3 linked regions of the Homo sapiens genome follow. The protein of the gene in region 2 interacts with the protein of the main gene of each other region in a pairwise test. Each region holds a gene or a part of one and is shown on either strand. Other genes may lie near its edges.

Region 1 (3,654 bases), on a different chromosome or scaffold from region 2:
TCAAACTCCACTTCAAGTACCCAATTCAGAGTACAGAATAGATATTTAAAGACTACAATTGATAATTAAAAGACATTATTGATCAGGCTAATACCAACTATCATATAGATGAAATAATCTGGAGGAAAAGGTAAATAAAAAGTAAAATTTGTTTTACCAAGCAACATCTATTTTTGGAGCACCAACTATGTCCAGTCCTATATGAATTTGTACCCCCAAAATACTAAAATAAATTTTATCATTTCATTAGATTTTGTTTTCAGAGAAAAAGTTGGCTTTTTTTTTTCAGAATTCTATTGTTCTTATATTGAAAAGGTTTTTTTTTTTTGAAAAATCTTCTGGTATTGTTTCAATAAACTATTTGAGATTTTATTCCTTTGTTAAAAGAAGGCAGTAATTTCATCATGCCACTTTCTGATTTTGTAATTAAGACAAAAGTTAATAATAAAATACAATAATTTCTCCTATAGTTTTTATTCTTGTGGTTATTTTCCATTAATTATCTTTTTTATCATACTCCAGCTAGTTTCCATTGAAAAATTTCTCGAAGATCAACAGTGCTTAAATCTATTTTTCACTTTAGCCGCTCTCAAATTAAAGGGATTGAAGGATTGTTTCACCCATTTTGTTTATTGAGGCCCAGCTATAAGACACATCTCTTCCAGCAAATACAAAGGGACAAAAGTAGAAAATAGTCTTCTTGATAAATGAATAAATTACTACCTAATGTTTTCTTCTAATATAATGTATAAAGTTAAATCCTATACTAGGAATGCTCATGTTTTATTAACTGAACATACCTTTCAGGCATTTCTTGCATTGTTGCAGGAATGAGTACATCTGTAAGAACCTTAATCATAGCAAAAGAGGTTAATACAAATCTTTACTTAGTATTTCTATAGAAAGACATATTATTGGTCAACTACTTTTTATTCCTAGCTTCCTAGAGAATAACATGTTAACTCCTTTCTCAAAGTTATAATTTTATCTCCAAAATGAATGTATGTATGAGTTGTGTGTGAGTGTGTATGACAATAAAAACAAGAGATAGCACTGTATATGTACATGCTCAGTATGTTAATTACCAATGGATTGGTCCATGGTAATCATATACCGTTTTATGATGAAAAGCTGACCACTTTCTAGAGGTGGGAGGAAGATTTTTGTAGAAGCTCATCTTACACCGTTCTACTTACAGAGCTCACTGTGCCTCTCTGGGTCCACCATGAGGAGGAGAAACCAGGTTCATTTAAAGATATTTAAAGTCAGGATGTTTATACTAGACTAAAAAAAACAGATCACTTAAAGGGAGAAGTGTGTTTTAAAAGTATTTCTTGGACAAACTGAATGACAGTCCAAAAAGCTTTGGTCTGATGGAAATTTGTGTGCATGAGCCCCAGGTCTTTTCTTATACTCACTCACGGAGCTGCCTCCCCTCCCCTTTTGGGAGCCTTGTCAAGTGTTAAGCATTACAAACAATTAATGCAAATTAAACTGTTTTTCTCTAAATAATGGCATTCATATTCAATCCAGAAAAAAAAAAAAAAACAAGACAATCCTTACTCTCCTCTGAAATTTTTTCAACTTGAACTTGAACTAAAGGCAGAAAATATATTGTACTTTATTCCTCCTTTCTCCTATCCTGTGATGAGGAAGTACTGGACAGAGGATAAAAATATGCACTCTCTTATTCAAGTTGTCTCATTACTTCTTGGTCTGCTTAGGGGCTTCTGGACTTAGTTTATCTATAAATAGCTTTTGCTTTACTTTTCTGCAAAGCTGAGAATCTGATAGTGGCAACTAACTTAGAAGGATTTTATTTCCTAAATGTTTAACAGCGTCCAGCTTGGGTTTTCTTGCCAACTCAGATTATTTTTTAAAAGGAAAGCTTTTGTTTTTCCTTATGGTAAGTTAGAAAGCAAATGTAGGCAAACTCACTTTAAAGTACCCACATTGCAATATAGTTTTATCCATCAGCTTAGAACTTGTAGCCACCAGGGAAGAGACTGTCAAGAATTAGCCTCTTTCTGTCTTCCATTAAATGTTTGCCTAGAAGGACAATCAGTTTGTCCTTATTTAGGATGTCTTCGAGATCCTTCTGCAGACACTTAGGAACTCTGATTTGGTTTGAGAAGAGAATTAGACATTAATGCATTAAAGTTAGAGGTTTTTGAGATTTTCAAGTTATTAATCTCATAAGGGTGCCTAATTCTGCTTTCTGCCAAAACACTGGCATTGTGAAAAAAAATCCACTGTGTTATTTTAATCTGAAAACACCTTAGAGAGTTAATAAAATTTAACTAAGTTTTCACATATTAATAAGTGTGTCACATATAGACTCATTATTAGCTGTAAAAAGAAATTGAGTTTGTTTTACTTAATGTAAACTTCAATTAAAACACATACACTATTAAACGTGCACTATTAAATTGCTTGCTTTCTCATCAAAAAAAAAGACAGTGTATATCCAGCCATAAATAACATATTTACTGAAAATATATTGCAAGAATTTAGATAGAATGCTACGTAAAGAAATAAATGGCTCATGTTTAAGACATCCCAAAGTGCTTACCTTATAAAGAATTGAGTCACAAACACAGAAAATATCAATGATAACAGGATTTTCGAGCAGGGGAAGGAGATGGTCAGGCATTCCTTGCCAAAAGTGTAATAAAAAATGCTGGATCTAGTTGCAGAGTAAAAAGTATGTTAAGATTTTTTTCTTTAACATGAACTCATTAAGAACAGAACATGAAAGTATATATAATAGGGTCAAATAAAGCATTCTTTGTCATTCTTACCTCTTCAAAGTTTCCATTAATTGCATTGTCCAGGATACACTGGCAGTGAGTTTTGTACATCATTATGAGCGTATCAACCTATTTCAAGGAAGAAAAAGCTTAACCAAAGCATCCTTTTAACACTGCCTTTTCTTGTTAATTTGTTCAACACAGATTTTTTAAAAGATCCTATTACGTACCAAGCAGTATGCTCAATGTTGAGGACTCAAAAATTAAGGCAAAATTCTTATTTCAAGGATCTTACTGCCTTGTGAAGGGAGAAAAGCAAACAAATGGACAACTACAGTATAATATGAAAAAGGTAATTTTTCAGAGTACTATGGACCAAAGTAACATCCTAGTTTTATGCCTACTAAAATATTAAATTTTAAAATTTAATTTTTAATTTAAATTTAAATTTTTTAAAATTAATTTTTGGGTAAATAAACATAAAGTAGTAAAAGTAGTAACAAAGATTTGGATAAATAAACATAAAGTAGTAAAATACATCAAATCTTCACACAGTTTTATGAAGTGGATGCTTGGAGCAGTATGGCATAATGGTTTCAAATTTTGTCTCTGGAGTCAGCTCAACTTGGGTGCCCACCTTCACTGCACTACTTACCAGGTATGACTGCAAAAGTGGCTTTGTCTCTGAGCTCCCAAGCTTTTTAAGTAGGTAGTAATAACATATTACTTACATGGTGTTAAGAAAATCAAATAAAATAGGATGTGACACATATGGAACAGTGCCTGGCACCCAGTAAGACCTTACTAAACATTATCCAGAGTTAGTAATAATATCAAATGATGCATTTTCCAAAAAAAAGTTTCAAACATTGAATGTCTATTATGAAAAGTCTCTCTTTTCAAG
Region 2 (3,654 bases):
ATGTTAGTTACCACCCCCCTCCCATGTGCTATGCACATCATATCTGTTTTGATTCCTAATATTTAGGGAGGACTTGAAACACTAAAAAAAAAGAAAAATCATGATGAGAAAAATGGTTAGATTTGTTTACCCTAGAGAAGAGAATGTAAAAATTGCTTTTACCTGTTTGAAAGACAATCAATAGATAAGGGAAATGTATTTTCAAGGCTTAGTTTAAGGACCCTGGTAGAAGTTAAAGAGTCGCTAAAAGGTAGATTTCATTCATGCATTATTTTATGCCATCTGTGTAGCAGATCTAGGGGATGAACAGGACAGATAAAAATCAATATAGGAATACAGGAATTATGTGAACACCAGTTATTGATACCCAGCAATGCCATAGGCTGTTTTGTAAACTAATGAGGTTTCATTGATAAGTGGCCAAATATTACTAAGAGGGGATTTCGATATTGGGTGAGATAATTGAGTGGTGACATTTACTATTGTTTCCATAATTCTAAATGTTGAAAATATATTTAGTCTTTTATGATGTAAAATGATATTTATGAAGCACATTCCTGAAAGGTGCTGCTAAAATGCCTTGACAGGTTGCTTGTTTATGGATTTTCATTTTGCAGAGTTCATAAATCTCAGTCATTTTCAGAGGAATCACAAGCTACTAATGAGAAAACTTACAACTTTAGGGTCTTGTGAAAAAATAATTGAAGAGTAATAGGGAACAGGTTTATAGACCTGAGGCAAAAACTTTTTCAGGGAGTTCTACGATTTTGAGGACTGTCTCTATTCTGTTTATGTCCATAATATTTTCACTACATTTCATGAATTGTTTATATTCTGCCTTGGAACCTAAAGGGACCAGGAGTTTGGCCAGTTACAGAAGGTAAAACAATTGAATATACTTACGATTTATCCGCTTGTGGACCGAGGTTCTTTTCCATTCCAGTTTCATCCCTACTGGGGTATTCCTAACACTGTTCCCCGTTCTGCCCCTTTCCCCTCAACAGATATCTTGGCATTATACTTCCTAGAGAATATGGAGGTACTCTTGAGATTTTTTAGTTACTTCCTCCCCCTTAAAAGATTATTTAAAAATATCTTTCTCAAACTTTTCCTTCCATTCTCAGGGGAAGAAAGAGCTTTCTTTCTAAGGTTAACTTTCTTGCTGTGCTTTTTATTATCCCTTGACCAGTTAGCCTCCCTTGTTCTGACTCCTCTAGTGATTCCTTTTTGTTTTTACTGGCTGCAGACATTTTTCATTCTCCTTTATGCTGAAAAATATATAAAAACCAAAACAATAACAAAACCTACTCCCTACTATTCCCTGTTACTCTCTTTGAGAACAGATGCCTCAAAAGAATAACCTATTTCCAGCCAGGCACGGTGGCTTATGCCTGTAATCCCAGCTACTCAGGAGGCTGAGGCAGGAGAATCACTTGAACCCTGGAGGCGGGAGGTTGCAGTGAGCACCACTGCATTCCAGCCTGGATGACAGAGGGAGACTCTGTCTCAAAAAATTAAAAAATGAATAAAAAAGAATAACCTATTTCCTAGTCTGTTCATTCTTTACCACCCCTTGCAGTTTCTACACCTTCTGCCCTATTGCACTTCTAAAAATGTTATTTTATTTATATGTGTATATATGTATTTTCTTGAAATATAATCCTATACCGTACAAATTACCCATTTAAACTGTACAAATCAGTCGTTTTTAGTATTTGCAGAGTCATGAAACCATCACAATTTTCAGTGTCTCTAATAAACAACTAATCACCAATTAAAGTAAACTTTCCTTAGTTCCTTGTCCTTTAACTTTTCTTTAGCATTTGTCACTGTTGACTACCATCTCTGGTTTAAAGCTGACATCCCATGGTTTGTTTTGCAACAAAGGATGCAAATTTCCCTACTTCTTGGACCAGTCTTTTTCCCTTTCTCTAATTTGGTGATTCTTAGTCTGCAAGTGGGTAAATCATAAGTGCATTCAAGTCTGTTTTACCTTCCTGTCACTGGGCAAACGCTCGCCTTTGGTGATTCTTCCTACTTGGTACAAGTTCACAGAGTTCTGTACCCAGACCCCTTCCTTCTTCACTCTCCATCCCTCCATCCGTCAACATGACTTTATAGTTATCACCTCTGTGTAGATGAACCCCAAGTAGATATGTTCTGTAGAGACTTCAACTGGCCTATTTATCTGTCTGATAGATATTTCCACAAAAGGATCTTAAAGTTCTTCAAGCTTAGTATTTATAGAGCCAAATTCTTTTCCTCCCTCCTTATCAAAACCAGCTTTTTCTCTTGTCTTATCCATTTGTCTTTTTAGTATCACCCTCTGTGTCAGTCAAACTTGAAATCATCTTTTTCCATTCTTTGCCTCATGGCCAATTATGACACACACACCCCTTGTTCCAGCTGCCATTGTGTGGAGACAGGTGTATTAGGCATTACTTGAACTGCTACTATAATCTCCTAACTCTTCCTCTTTCTGCATACCTCTAAACAGCCCTTACCTCATTATGTTCTCTCCCCTTACATGCGTTATTATTTGTGGCACTTAAGATTCCCTGACAAATATTCATATATTTCTTTCTTATTGTCTCTCCCACTAGAATGTAAGCTTCCTGGGGCAAAGACCTTACTTATCTTGTGCCCTGCCATGCCATTAAGGCCTGGCTCATAGTAAATGCTCAGGAAATATTTAAATGAAAAAGTACATGGAAAACTGTTAGGCGTATGTATATTAAAGTAGCAATTCCCAACTGTGAATAAATTGCTAAGATGTGCTAAGATATTGATTCCCTCAGCCAACTGTCCAGTTGCCTTCTGTTCTATAAGAATATATGTACATGTTTAACACTTATTAATAATCAAACACCAGAAACATTTACATGCCCAAACAGTAGAATGTATAGATAAAGTGTGTTGCATTCATAGGATATAACTGTACTGTACAGCAGACTTTCTCAGCTTTGGCACTATTGACATGTTGGACCAGATAATTTCTTGTCATGGGGGATTGTTCTGTGCACTGAGGACATTCAGCAACATTCCTGGCCTCTACCCACACTAGATGCCAGTGGCAACCCCCCAGTTAGGAAAACCAGAAGTGTCTTCAGACATTGCCAAATGTCCCCTGGGGGGCAAAATTGTCCCAGGTTTAAAAACCACTGCTCTGCGGCAGTGAGAATGAACAAATACTGCTTTATGCAACAACAGGAATGAATCCCATGAACTTAATATTGAGCAGAAGAAACCAAATGTAAAAGTGGTACTGTGTCATCGCACAGTCCTTCAAAAACAGGCAAAACAAATTGATGGAAATAGAGGTCAGAATAGTTATCTTTGGGAGGATAGTCACTAGGAAAGAACGAAGAGAGCTTCTGGAATGTTGGTACTGTTCTCTTTCTCAACTGAATAGTGTTAACACAGGTGTGTTTACTTTGTGAAAAACAATCAGCCATACACTTATAATTAGTTCACTTTTCTTTTTGTATGCTATAATTCAAATCACAGTGTTGTAATTTATGAAAGCAGTACCCACACATAAGCAAGTATTCCTTGGCTATCGAGGGATTGATGAAGATAAGGAGTCCTCCTGGTCTCCTATTCAGTCTCATCTGACTTTTTCCCCAACTTTTTATTGTATGAAAGAATAGTGCA
Region 3 (3,754 bases), on a different chromosome or scaffold from region 2:
CGTGACGAGTTGTAAGGTGGTACCCTGGATGGGGTCTTGGGACAGAAAAGGTATGTGAGGTGAAAGCATAGCAAAACCTCACTTCAACAGGAAATACAACCCAAAAAAATAATTGGCCGGGCATGGTGGCTTGCGCCTGGGGTCCCAGCGACTCGGGAGGTTGAGCGGGACGGACGGCTTGAGCTCAGGCCTTCCAAACAAGCCTGGGCACATAGCGAAACCTCGTCTCTCCAAAAAAATCCGAAAATTATCCCGATGTGGTGGCGCTCACCTGTAGTCCAGCTACTCCGGAGGCCGAGACAGGAGAATCACTTGAACTGATTCTCCTATCTCAGCCCCCCCCCCCCCCCCGCCCCACCCCAAGTAGCCGCAGCGAGCCGAGATGGCACCGCTGCACTCCAGCCTGGGCTACAGAGCGAGAACCCGTCTCTGTAAAAGACACAAGGATGCAAACCAACCAAATAACCCACTGTGGGATCCCCTCCAGCGTCCTGCTGTGTTTCCCGCTGTCTTCCTCCACCCGTGAGTGCACCCACAGCAATAAAAGCCAGCGGTGTGGGTCTCACACGCATCTCCAGCCCCGTCGCCATCGCGCTGAGCTCGACTCTTTTTACAAAAGGCCACTTGACATCCTCACTTGGCAGTTCAAAAGCCCCTTCAACCAGATGTGCGCAAGCCAAGCTCCGCAACTTCCCGTTCAGAGCAGGTTCTCGGTCCACCTCTGCCTGAATGAACCGGCGGGCTACCAAGGCCGCAGTCTCTTCCTCAAGGGCTGTCCACACTGGGTCTCGCTTTCTCTTGGAAATTTCTCTCCCACCAGGGAACTTTCTCCTCCTCTACCTCCCTGAGTCTCAGTCTAACAGCACCCTGCGCCCAACCCCGAGGGCTGCAATAGCCTTCTTGCCTCTCCTGACTTATTCTGCGGACCCTGGGTTGGCGCTCCTTCACAGCCAGGCTGGTCGTTTCTGAAATGTTAACCCGCTGCCGGACACCGTTCCACGGTTTTCCGCTGCCTTGGAACAAGACCAGCTCCTGCGCGGACCCTGCCTCCACCTCGCACCACCTCCGGGCCTGGACTTGGCCTCCCGTCCATTCCCAGAATGTGCCGGGCTCCCTTCCAGTCCGGGCCTCAGCACACTCTCTTCACTCCCCTTCCTCCCTCCCTGCCTCTCCCAACCCGGTTCAGGATGACTAATTTCAAACGTTATGTTCCAGATTTCAGCCCAGATATCCCCGCTTTGGATGCTTTCCTTGACCATGCTCAGATCTAAGCTAATCGCATCTTCCTGTCAGCCGCTTTCAGGGCACCACACCTCATTGTGCTGACACTCAGAGGTCATTATGCAATTTTTTTTCCTCGATGATTAGATTAATCAATCAACCACGGACGTCTAGAAATGGCGGCATCTCAGAAGGGCCCCCATTTGACTGGCAGGGGACTGGCCCAATGCGCCTCGCAAGCCCAGCCAGGCCCGCCCCAGCCGGCCCCCCTCTGACGACGCCTGTCCCTTACGCGACTGCCTTGCTGCCATATAAGAGGGACGGCGCTCGGCCTCCAGCAGTCGGCTTTCTGCTGGGCTCGGAGCCAGAACCTGCTGCGTGCTCCCTCCAGACTCCCTGGCTGCGGGTGGACTACCTCAGAGCTACAGCGGTGAACCTGTGGACACCTCCGACTCCTCGGGCCTCTCTTCGTCGAAGAGTCTCCTAATTTTCAGATCTCCGGAGCCAGCTGTGGGAAGATCAGGTGTGTGTCTGGGGGTCCCGGAGGCGTGGACGGATCTCGGGTGGGTGCAGTTGGGGACAGAATCCTCATTCCCCTAGAAAGGCCACGGCCATCCCCCTGCCTTGTCACCTCTGTCTTCCTAAATCCGTTCTTGCTCTCTTGTTTTTCTCCCCAGCCCCTCCCGCCGATTGCTCATGGAGGAACCAAGGCCTTCGAAGCGACTTCGCTCCATGGCCCCTAATCAAGGTACATCAAACGCCTGCCACTCCTCTCTTTTTAATTTCGTCTGTTCCCCAATTCTTCCCCAATGGTTGACACTCAAACTCAATCAAGCATTCTCTGTTTCACCTTCTCCTAGCCTGCCTCAACCTGGGCTGCTTGTTGGAAGTCAGCTCCCGGGTTCCACATCATCTGGGAAATTCCTTTCCCTCTTCCGAACCGTAATCCCATTTCCCAAATCTGAGATTTGCTGTTGTTGTCGCTGTTTCCTTCTGTTTAGTTTTGTATTACTGTTTCTCCGTAGCAGAGCGAGTCCTCACGCTACGTCTTGATCTATGATAAACCGGTACTTCCACCTTGTTCTTTCCCGGAGGAGTTGGAATTTTCCGGCTGTTGCCACGTTGTTCTCCAAAACATTTCCCTTCATACGCTGAGTGTCCTAAATCTTTTAATCTTGTCTAGTTTGACAGATGCATAACAATAAAGCATCCACTGAAAGGAAATTCTTTAACATCTTGCTTGTCTGAAACATCTTCATTCTCCCCTCCCAGATTCTTCAGCGAAACTTCGGTTGGACAGGAAATTTTAGGTGGGAAATTCATTTCCCTTGAAATTTCGAAGACATTTTCTGTTATGTTCTAGACTGAACTGCTGCTTTTGAGATGTCTGACTTTTGAGACATGTGGAATCCTAGCCCTTTCCATGTGACTTTTCCTTTCTCTGTCTCCCGCTCTCTAGAATCTGTTAGAATCTTCTCTTTTTCCTCAGCACTCTGAAATTTTCTGGTGAAATGTCTCAGCCACAGCATACCTCTAATTCTCTTATATTTCATCCTTCTTTCCATCATTTTAGGTTTTTGCTTTGTTCTGTGGGAGACCTTCTCAACTTCATTCTCCAACTTCCGTGGAGAGTTTTGTTTCTTCTCTCACAATTTTAACTTCAGAAATCCCTCTTTTCTCTGAGTATTTATTTGTAAAAGTATCCTATAACTGCTTGACGGGTGAAGTTCCTTCTGTCTCTCTCTGCTCACGCTCCGCTTCTCTTTTAGCCTCAGGTGGGCCTCCTCCAGAGCCAGGCTGCTGTGTTGCGGACCCTGAAGGCTCCGTGGAAGCAGATGGGCCCGCACAGCCAGCCCAACCCGCAAAACCCATCGCTTACGTGAAACCCTTCAGACGGCAGCCCCCAGCTCGCCCAGAGTCACCCCCTCCTGCAGAGAGAGGCCGGCGCCGGGGAGGAAGCCGGCGGCCAGGGCGAGGCCGTGGCAGAAGGGCTGGGCCCCGCGGGGACGCTGGCCAGAGACAGGGGGCAGAAGGCTTGATGGCACCGGACGTGCACATCCAACTGGACCACCATGGAGAGCCAGGCCACCAGGGGGAACCGGAAATCACGGAGACCGCAGCCTTCTCCCTTTCTGAAACAGGTCCTCCGCCTGGAACTGTGCAGGAAGGCCCTGGCCCCGACGTGGCGCAACCTGAGCTGGGGTTTCAGGAGCCGCCCGCTGCTCCTGGGCCTCAGGCTGTTGACTGGCAACCCGTCTTGACCCTCTATCCCTGCATCGGGTTTAGGGCTCTGGGTGACTCAGCGGTTTTACAAGTCATTCAAACCCCCCAGGGCACCTACGTGCAAGGGGTCCCAGTGTTCCTCACCGACATTGCGTATTGACCACTATCTGCCACCCACGTTGTTCCCAGCCTCCCTTCCTTCCACCTGGACGTTCCCCCCAGCCCCACTTCTGCTCCACTCCTCCCCCGACTGGACCTGAAGCCTGAGCTTCCCCTGAACTTGGAGTACGCAACTTACAACATGCAAGCT

What was found.
Region 1: the proteins of CCNK (region 2) and RFX6 interact in a two-hybrid assay, tested with the Homo sapiens proteins (one large-scale study listed by BioGRID and IntAct).
Region 3: the proteins of CCNK (region 2) and PRR20B interact in a two-hybrid assay, tested with the Homo sapiens proteins (one large-scale study listed by BioGRID).

The regions. Positions count from the first base shown.
Region 1 is NC_000006.12:116,915,233-116,918,886, reverse strand, and holds part of RFX6 (DNA-binding protein RFX6), read right to left. Parts: intron 2,880-3,654; coding exon 2,802-2,879; intron 2,687-2,801; coding exon 2,573-2,686; intron 851-2,572; coding exon 801-850; intron 1-800. UniProt on the Homo sapiens protein: Transcription factor required to direct islet cell differentiation during endocrine pancreas development. Specifically required for the differentiation of 4 of the 5 islet cell types and for the production of insulin.
Region 2 is NC_000014.9:99,484,344-99,487,997, forward strand, and holds part of CCNK (cyclin-K), read left to right. Parts: intron 1-2,109; exon of another isoform or gene 2,110-2,115; intron 2,116-3,654. UniProt on the Homo sapiens protein: Regulatory subunit of cyclin-dependent kinases that mediates activation of target kinases.
Region 3 is NC_000013.11:57,145,958-57,149,711, forward strand, and holds the start of PRR20B (proline-rich protein 20B), read left to right. Parts: upstream 1-1,530; 5' UTR 1,531-1,744; intron 1,745-1,898; 5' UTR 1,899-1,917; coding exon 1,918-1,969; intron 1,970-2,990; coding exon 2,991-3,604; 3' UTR 3,605-3,754.